2 linked regions of the Homo sapiens genome follow. The protein of the gene in region 1 purifies or fractionates together with the protein of each later gene. This does not show direct contact. Each region holds a gene or a part of one and is shown in the gene's direction. Other genes may lie near its edges.

Evidence for each region. The genes of interacting proteins can lie anywhere in the genome.
Region 2: the proteins of GALNT10 (region 1) and MGAT4B purify together in Homo sapiens (affinity purification with mass spectrometry; one large-scale study listed by BioGRID and IntAct). This does not show direct contact.

Annotation. Positions count from the first base shown.
Region 1 is NC_000005.10:154,192,880-154,198,238, forward strand, and holds part of GALNT10 (polypeptide N-acetylgalactosaminyltransferase 10), read left to right. Parts: intron 1-5,359. UniProt on the Homo sapiens protein: Catalyzes the initial reaction in O-linked oligosaccharide biosynthesis, the transfer of an N-acetyl-D-galactosamine residue to a serine or threonine residue on the protein receptor. Has activity toward Muc5Ac and EA2 peptide substrates.
Region 2 is NC_000005.10:179,799,561-179,803,886, reverse strand, and holds part of MGAT4B (alpha-1,3-mannosyl-glycoprotein 4-beta-N-acetylglucosaminyltransferase B), read left to right. Parts: exon of another isoform or gene 1-1,775; coding exon of another isoform or gene 1,776-1,917; coding exon 1,918-2,103; intron 2,104-2,192; coding exon 2,193-2,333; intron 2,334-2,419; coding exon 2,420-2,553; intron 2,554-2,933; coding exon 2,934-2,980; intron 2,981-3,289; coding exon 3,290-3,403; intron 3,404-3,627; coding exon 3,628-3,703; intron 3,704-3,818; coding exon 3,819-3,933; intron 3,934-4,250; coding exon 4,251-4,326. UniProt on the Homo sapiens protein: Glycosyltransferase that catalyzes the transfer of GlcNAc from UDP-GlcNAc to the GlcNAcbeta1-2Manalpha1-3 arm of the core structure of N-linked glycans through a beta1-4 linkage and participates in the production of tri- and tetra-antennary N-linked sugar chains.

The DNA of each region.
Region 1 (5,359 bases):
TTCATTTCTGTAGACCCAGATGGGTAGAGAAGGTCAAGGTTAACTGCCAGTTTGGCCTGAGCTTTCAAAGTAAATTACTCACTTGTGCAAGAGGGTATTGATAGAGTAAGGCAGACTTTTGGGCAGGGAGAGAGAGGGGAGCAACAGCTGGGTGCTGCTCAGAGCCCCTAACTGAAATGGATAGACAGGCTCATCTGGGAAGATCTAGTTTTTGTTCATTTCTTTTTCTCTGGAATAGCATGAAGAGGAGGAGGAAGAAGTGGTGAAGGGGGTTTGGGGGTTTGGGGGGAATACCAACTGATTATTCTTGCTTTAAAGAAAATCTCTTTGCTTCATGGGAGCAGCAGAATGGAGCTGTTTCCCCAATGATAAGCTCTTCTAGGTGCTACAGGATTCAGCATTCATCTGCTGCCTTTCAAGAACGCCCTGCCAAATTTCCACACAGCCCCTTTTTGTTTCACTCTCCCACAGATGCAGAGCACTGGGCTTGGCCCCCAGTCCGTTGTTTGAATGTCAGCTGGCCTTGAGGAAAGAGGCTGACTTCTCAGAGTGATGGTGTTCCATCCCTCATCCCAGTGTACTGGAACATACATGTAACATGCCAGGCTGCTATCTGGGAAATCTGGCATCTTGAGCATACAGAGCTTTTTCAACAGGGCTGACCAGTTCTGAGCTCAGCCTGTCATTCTTGTAATTGTTGAGAATCATCTTTGAGCATCTCGTTGATCCTTCTGGTAGAAATAACTGCAGAGGCTCTGGAGGGAAGTCTGACAGGACTTTATCCAAATGAAAAATGTGTTCCATATGGGTTTGAAAGAAGATTCTTTGAGAGTAACATATCCACTACTTGAGTAGTCCTCTAACTCCTTGATTTCTCCACTGGATTAAAGAACGGAGTTTCAAATTTATAGTGTTTATCATCTGCTAGAATGAAAGTCTACATAACTCATGCCAGCTCATCCTGGGAGTACCTCTGGAGCTGGGTGGGATAGCTGATTTATAAAGGACACATAATGCTTCTAGGATTTCAGCAGTCATCTGGTCAGACAGTTGGCTTCTTGGGAAGCTGCAAAACCAAGCAAGAAATGCCAGCCTTGAAGACATCTTCCTTTTAATTTGTGGGTCCCTCTCATTCCAAGCCCCAATCTGTTTAACATCTTGGTTTAATTCAACAGTCTGTTTCATATTCCAGGTTTGGGACAGGTTATTAAAAGCTCAAGTTAGAAACTCAGTGCAGTCTCTCCTCATTTCTGAGCCATAATCTCTTGTTGAAAAATGACTTCACTGGATAAATAGCATATGTGGAATAGAAATTGGTGGAATAATGGAATACCGGTGACTTTAATTTTCAAGTATCAGGATTTCTTTCTCATTGTGTTAGAGCTGAACTTTATTCTTAGAACATCCAGAAATCAATGTTTTTTTCTCTTTTTTCAGTCTTCCTGGTGGCAGAAGCCTTGCCCATCAGAAAGTTAAGTATAGAAATGTAGCCTTGGAACGATTTCCTTAATTTTCCACAGAAGGGCTAGTATCCTTTAGCTTGCTAATCACTCCTCTGTCTGCATGCCCAGGTGAAATCTGATGCCACTAGGGAAGGGTTGTTGATTTGCCAGAACAAATCCGGCTCCCTACATTCTTTCTGTCATTCTTGGCTTGCTGTCTACCAAGGAGTCCAGCTGAGGAAGGCCTGGGAACAGAGACCTGGCTTTTAGTCCTTTCTCCTGCCCTAAACTCACTGTGTGTCCTCAGGAAAGAGGTTTAACCTCTCTGGGCCTTGGATTCCTCATCTGCTAAGTGAGGCTTAGATTCAGAAGGGAAAAGGCAAATGCATATTGTAACGATGCTTCCCCTCCCATGGCCAGGGCAGACATTGCTAATCAACCTTTTCATTACTAATACCAGACTTGGGCTCAGACTGTTTCTCAGCAGGGCTACTCAAGTAGAGTTAACGACATATGGAAACTCATTAGCAATGTAGGGAATAGATACTGTGTTAGGGCTTTTCCAACTCTTACATCCTGAGGTTCTGTGAGTATGCTTGGAAACACATCTGAATAGTGATAGTATATTTAAACAGGCCTCTGTATCTAACTTGTAATGAGGCCACAACTTAAGGGTATGTTCATATTTGAATGTCTTTTCTCAGGCTGTAGTCTAAGGATGTTCAGCCTTTGATCTGTTGGTTCCAGTGACACGGTAACAGATAACGGAATCAGGAATGAAAAGCAAAAGCCCATTTAAAAGATAACCATCTAGCTTGCTAATTGTACCTTGTCCACAGTCAGCTCTTACACAGAGATGGCATCAGGATCTCCTCACTGAATCAAAAGCACCTTGAGGCAAACCTGGCAGCTACAAGTAAGCCCCATGGCAGCTAAATGCTCCTGACGGTGTTTGCAGAGGTTTCGTGTTTTACATATATCTGACCCTCTGCATCCCATATATGTGTCAGAACTGGTAAGGGAAGGCCTTGAATAAGAGTCTTGTTTCTCCAGAGAACCTTTCTCCTCATGCGCAGTGGAGTGGGGAAAGGAGGTAGCGCATATACACCTGAATTCCCGCAGCAAGAAGTGTATCATGGCCTCCCTGCTGGAAATGTCTTAAGGTAGGAACACATCCTCCTCTAGCACAAAGCACAAGATTTGGCTCTTGGAAGACAGGATGTGTTTGCTGAATGATTGAAATATATCAGAGCAGGCAGGGGGCTGCAGAAGTCATCTAGTCCAATCTCCTCAATTTGTAGGTATGAAAACTGAGGCCGAGAAAAAGGGAAACAAATTAAACAAGTTCCCATAGGGAGGAACGCAGATCAGAATCCATTCTCCAAGTTCTTGTTCTATTTCACCATGAGAAATTTTTTCCCTCCATATACTAATATTTGATCCTTCTCTACCATTATTTCTTTCAGGAGCCAAGATTATCACCCCAAATTTTGGAGGCCACTGCTTAATGAGACCAATTATCTGCTGGAACCTATCTGGCTATTTTTTTGTAGATCTATTTTTGTACATTTTCTTTCCAACATTTTATAGTGTTTTGTTTTTGTTTTTGTTTTTTTTTGAAACGGAGTTTTGCTCTTGTTGCCCAGGCTGGAGTGCAATGGCGTGATCTCGGCCCATCGCAACCTCCACCTCCCAGGTTCAAGTGATTCTCCTGCCTCAGCCTTCCCAAGTAGCTGGGATTATAGGCATGCGCCACCAAGCCTGGCTAATTTTGTATTTTTAGTAGAGATGGGGTTTTTCCGTGTGGGTCAGGCTGGTCTCGAACTCCCGACCTCAGGTGATCTGCCCACCTCAGCCTCCCAAAGTGCTGGGATTACAGGCGTGAGCCACCATACCCAGCCTCATTTTATAGTTTTAAAAGCAACTAAAATGGATTAAAATTTAAGGTGGCAAAGGGACAAGAGTAGAGGAATTAAAGGCTGGGAAGTACATGGCACCATTACTGCTATCCCTGACAGACAGAGAGAACTTGAGCCTAAGAACCACCTCAGATTCTCTATCAGTTGCAAGTAACAAAACAAATTGAGCCATGTGGGCTGAAATGAGTAAGGGAATATATTGGCTCCTGTGACTGTAGTTGGCTTCAGGTATGGTGTGATCTAGAGGTTTGTGGCATTGTCAGGGCTCGGTCTCCTTTCCTCTGGTTTCTGTTGGTTCTGACTTTCTCTGTGTGTTGGCTTTGTTCTGTTTTGAGGCTCCATGGCAGCAAAAAATGGTAATAGCTCTTTCAGACCTCAGATCCACACCTAGATCCTAGAGGAGAGGGTCTGTCTCCTCTGGTAGCTTCTACAAAAGACAGAGAACATCTTTTCTATAAGCTCTAGCAAGATCTTAGGTCTTACCGGTCTACTTTGGATCTAATGTGCTGTCTGAACCATTCGCAGATTTCAGGAGGAGAAGCTGTATTGATTGACTTAACGTACCCTAGAGCTAGGAGTGGAGTCAGGTTACCCAGATCTAAGAAGAGCAGTTCCCCAGAGAAGACTCTGGGTGCTGCTTTTGGGAAGAGGAGAAAGATATCTAGAGAAGAAGCCCACAAATATCCACTCCAGAGTCCTGCTGACACAGTGTTCCAGGCAGTAATCACTCCTTGGGGATGAGATTTGGTCCTGGAGAGAAAACCCCTTTGCCACCCTGGACCCATTTTTGGGCACCGAACCTGCAGTCTGGAGGTCTGTGTTCTCATTCCAGCACTGCCACCCCTTGGCTGAGATGATTAGCTGTGTGGACCTCAGTTTGTTGCTGAGGACGGCTTGGGTGCAAATGCTTGCCAACACACAGTGGAGGGTGGAGATAAAGAGCAATTGAAAGCTGTCTTTATTGAATCTTACTTACCCGTTCTGCCGCTGCCTTCCTTTCCCCTCACAGACGTCCCGAGAACTGTCTCCCCTGCCCCCATACACACTAAAAGTCAATTCATTGAAAATTTCTCTCAAGCTGAAAAAGAACTTCTGTCTCTGCAGCTTCCACGTTTTTTCTGCCTGGCCCTCTTAGCTGGAGGAGGTGGAGTGTTCATACTTTGGAAGCTAGAGGAAGCTAAACAATTCTGCTTGCTGTGGTGGGTGGGTGTGTATTTATGCGTGTGTAGCTTTCTCTCCATGTGTCTCTCTTCTCTCCCTCTTATCTTTGAATGGTTCCTGTTTGCTGCCCTCTGCTGAGTGTAGATAGGAGAGAAAAGAAAAAAGCAGGCCTATTTTTTTCCTTCCCTATGGCTTTAAGAGAATGCTGAGCTTCAGATGTTAAATTGTCTTCAGTTTTCTCAGGTGATGAAAGCCACAGCATAAAATGATACTGATCCAAAGAATGATGATGATATGGCTGATAATGAGGTTGATAATGTTAATAGTAGTAATAGCAGTTACCATTTATTTAGCACTTACTCTGCTAGGTCCTTTACCTGTACATCTGTTAAATATTGTTGTAACCAGGTAGGAAAGAAGGAGGGAACTGAAGCTCGAAGAGGGGCAGGTGCTTGCCCAAGGATGCACAGCCTGTAGTGGTGGAGCTGGTATTTGAACTCTGACCTAGTGCTGAGTCCTTAACCACCATACTTCCTCCATATCTGAGCAGGACAAAGGACCTGTCTTCCACCCCTGCCCGTTAAGCCCTTCCTGCAAGCCTGGACATCTGAGCAGGTGAGAGGGACCATTGCCCTAAGACAGCCTCTTCAGTAGCTGAAGTGGAGCACATAAGGTCATGTGGTGGTGGTGTGTGCTGGAAGAGAAACCTCTACCTCAGCCTCCTCCTGTCTCCGTTCCTCTTGGTTTGAGGCATGTGGGGCTGCGTATAGTGCTCTAGCTTTGGAGCTACACTGCCTGATTCAAAACCCGAGGCTTGGGCAAGCTTGACCTGTGTGC
Region 2 (4,326 bases), about 26 Mb from region 1:
AGAGAAGCTGAGGGCAAGGCGGGTGGAGGAGCTGGCAGGCGGGGGAGGCTGCCCAGGGCCAGGGCCTGCAGTGTGTAGGGAAATGACAGAAGGGTTGGTGTGGGCGGGAGCCCGTGGGGCCCTTTATCTCCTGGTAAACAGGACCCGGGGGAGAGGGGAGGCCCCTAGGAAGGAAGCGAGGGTAAGGCGCAGGCTGTTGCCAGGGTGATTCAGGCAGCATCACCCACCACTGCCCACCCAGCCTGTCCATCTGAGGCAGTCGTGTGGGACAGAGAAAGCCAGGGTGGGGCTCGGGGGTGGGGGTGGGCAGTGGCTGTAAGTAGGCAAGCGGGGACTGGCATCTAGGCAGGAGGGAGGCGCACCTGCAGGTGCAGGTGGCTCTGAACCCATTCCTGATGGCTCTCTAGGCCTCTGCACCTCCAGTCCCATCCCTGTGGGCGAGTGCTGCCTACACCTGGTGTCACCCAGCAATGGGTGAGCCCTGGGGATAGCCAGCTCTGCATTCAAGGGGTTAGGTTTCCAGGGTAACCGAGCCCCTGAGCCCAGCGTGGAGCCTGGCAGAGCCAGTAATCTGACTCCCCTTTCCCTCCCGCCAGGGGCTGTCCAGAGGCTCCGCTTTGCCTCAGCCTTTAGCCCCAGAGAGGCAGGGTGTGGAGGGTGGGGGCTGGCTTCTTGGGTAAGAGATGCCTCAGGGAAGATCTACCTGGCTCCCTGCTCCTTAAACCTTTCCCTCCTGCCCAGGTCCACCCCTTCCTCTTCCCTGGTCACTTGGCACTTCGACCTCCTGCCCGTTTCGGAAAGGGGTGTGCCCTGAGGTGACTGAACTTTGCCTGATCATGACCTTGATCATGCACAGGGCTGCTGGTGGGGTGAGGCCATCCCACGCAACTCTGGGGTCTGTGAAGCCACCAAGGATCAAGGAATGGAAGAGCTGCCTGAGTGTAGAGGGAGTTCGGTCAGGCTTCTTAAACTTGGAGACTTGGAAACAGAAGGCCTTGTAGGCCACATAGGTTTTCAGAGACTCGCCTGGCAGAGGCCTGGAGCGTCCTGCTGCGTGGACTGTGGGCACCGAGCCACCAGGAGGTTGTTGATCTCATTCTTGCTCACTGGTCCCTGCCAGACTGGTGGTGCCTCTCTACTGTCGGGCAGCCCCACCTCTGTGCTGCCCCATCCACCTACAGCCCTCATGCCTGGGCCCAGCTGGAGGTTCTGACAGGGGCCCCCTGGGGTGGCATGCGGACCCTTCAGGGTGCCCCAGGCGCAGCACAGGTCTCCAGAGACACAGGCACCAGGGCGTTCAGAGCTAGTCCCCTCGCTGCTGTTGACTGTCCTTGAGCAGCCCCAGGGCCGGTTTCTCAACCTCATTTGCTCACCTGAGCAATGAAGTGAGGTGGGCTCCTGGAACTGCAGCAGCCACCCCCCGGGGCCATCGTGAGGCTAAGAATCCAGTGCAGGGTGAGCAACCAGCGACCGCTACAAGGACAGTGAAGAGCTAGCACCAGGACCTTGGGTAGCCCACCCGCTGGAGGGAGCGTGTGCTGCAAAAAGCAAGAGTGGGCTTTGGAGGCCAACGGATGGAGCGGATTCAGTCTGAGGCTGTTCCAGCCCTTGCTTAGGATCCACCTACCTAGGTCTGGAAATCGTATTTCCACTTCAGATGCCTTCTCAGAGGATAAAATAACCCCCGGTGGGGGAGAGTACTGGAAGAGGGCTAATTCCCCTGGTTTTCTCCCCATGAGCATTAGTGTCAGTGTAATTTTAGAGTGACCCCAGCTATGTCACGTGTGGCAGGCACAAGAACAGATGTCAATGAGCTATTGCAGAGGTGGACACCCAGATGTGTGCGCTGGCACACTGGAGGGGCCCGTAGGGTGGCTCTAGACCGCCCCCTCGTGACGGCTTGCCTACCACCTGCAGGCGACGTTGTGGACGTTTACCAGCGGGAGTTCCTGGCGCTGCGCGATCGGTTGCACGCAGCTGAGCAGGAGAGCCTCAAGCGCTCCAAGGAGCTCAACCTGGTGCTGGACGAGATCAAGAGGGCCGTGTCAGAAAGGCAGGCGCTGCGAGACGGAGACGGCAATCGCACCTGGGGCCGCCTAACAGGTGAGGTCTGGGGCGGGAGGGGGAAAAGGCGGGGGCGGGCTGGTTGTAGGTTCCCTGGTCTCAGTCCCGATCCTTCCCGACCCACCCAGAGGACCCCCGATTGAAGCCGTGGAACGGCTCACACCGGCACGTGCTGCACCTGCCCACCGTCTTCCATCACCTGCCACACCTGCTGGCCAAGGAGAGCAGTCTGCAGCCCGCGGTGCGCGTGGGCCAGGGCCGCACCGGAGGTATGGGCGCAGACAGGGAGGAGCACGGGGTGGGGGGACGGGTGGCCCCCGCACCCTTTCCAGCGTCGGGCCTCCGTCCCCCATAGTGTCGGTGGTGATGGGCATCCCGAGCGTGCGGCGCGAGGTGCACTCGTACCTGACTGACACTCTGCACTCGCTCATCTCCGAGCTGAGCCCGCAGGAGAAGGAGGACTCGGTCATCGTGGTGCTGATCGCCGAGGCGAGTGAGCCGGGACGCGGGGTTGGGGGACATTCAGAGGAGCCCCCGCGGTGCAGAACTGACAGCAGGAACCATTCCGAGGAGAAAGCTGTCGGAAGTTCAGTTGCTAGTTTCATTCGCAAATGCTCCGAGATAGAAAGTTGAAAGGGCTTTCTGGCACCCTCTACCCCTACCCATCGCCCCCGCCACCCCCTAGTCCTTGGCCATGCGAGTCCCAAAGGGAAAGGGCCGTCTCTGGGGGCCCCCTTACTCCGCCCTCAGCACAGCAGGCTCACTCCCTCCACGTGGGGGGCATCTGAAGCCTGTGCCCCTTCTCCAAGCCCTTCCAGGCCTTTTGGGGCAGCAGCAGGGCTAAGGGAGGGTGCTTGGTCTCCCCACAGACTGACTCACAGTACACTTCGGCAGTGACAGAGAACATCAAGGCCTTGTGAGTACTGGCGACCCCAGAGAGCTGGTGGCGGGAGAGCTCGGTGCGGGGTGTTGTGCTGGCAGGTTCCTGCCTCCCCATGAGATAGTGCCTTTCCTATCTCGTGGGGAGGCAGGGACCTGGTGGGGGAGGGGTGGGTGTGCAGAAGTGGCCCAGCCCCTCTGGAGCTCTGCTACCTCAGTTGGCTGGGTGTAGGGGGTGGTGGGGGGCTGGCACTGGGTGAGCCTCAAGAAAGGGCCACAGTCTGGTGGGCTCGGCCCCTCTCAGCCCCTGGAGGCTGCATACGGACTAGGCCTTCCCGTCCCCCAGGTTCCCCACGGAGATCCATTCTGGGCTCCTGGAGGTCATCTCACCCTCCCCCCACTTCTACCCTGACTTCTCCCGCCTCCGAGAGTCCTTTGGGGACCCCAAGGAGAGAGTCAGGTACTAGTTACTCCCCCATACCCTCAGCAACCCGCCTGCCTGTGCTGAGAACCCATCTACTGGTGTTTGAGTCCAGGGTGTTTCCCTGCAGTGCCCTGAATTCTCCATGGGAGGACCCGTGCATGGGGGTGGGGGGACAGAAGCTGCCCACCCAGCGGCTTCTCTGCGGAGCCACAATGGAGGTGGAGGGGTCTGAACTTCTGAGGCCCCGCCCCGGCCCACAGGTGGAGGACCAAACAGAACCTCGATTACTGCTTCCTCATGATGTACGCGCAGTCCAAAGGCATCTACTACGTGCAGGTCAGCCCCAAGCCCTGCGTTGCCCTGCCCTGCCCTGCGCCGCCCTGCCCTGCGATGGGTCTGGTCCATCTGGGTGCCCTTCCTCAGCCCCAGCCCCTCTCTGCTCACCTCGCAGCTGGAGGATGACATCGTGGCCAAGCCCAACTACCTGAGCACCATGAAGAACTTTGCACTGCAGCAGCCTTCAGAGGACTGGATGATCCTGGAGTTCTCCCAGCTGGGCTTCATTGGTGTGCCCCTCCCCTTACCTGACGGTGCCTTTCAGTCCCACCTGCCTCTGCCATCCTCTCTCCCAGTCCCACTGTGTCCACTGTGAGCCTTTGCCCAGGTGGGCCCTGCCTGGTGTGCGTGCTACAGCCCCACCTGGCCTGTTCTCATTGCCTGTGCATCAGACATGTCTGCCCTCATCACCTGTCTGCCTCCCTGCCCCGTTATGCCCACACCTGCCTGAAGCCTGCCCCTGGGTTTGCTGTGGGACTCGGGGGCCGCTGCAGGGAGAAAGGAAGTAGGCAGAGCAGCACTGCCCACTCAGGCCCCTCCCCACCAGGTAAGATGTTCAAGTCGCTGGACCTGAGCCTGATTGTAGAGTTCATTCTCATGTTCTACCGGGACAAGCCCATCGA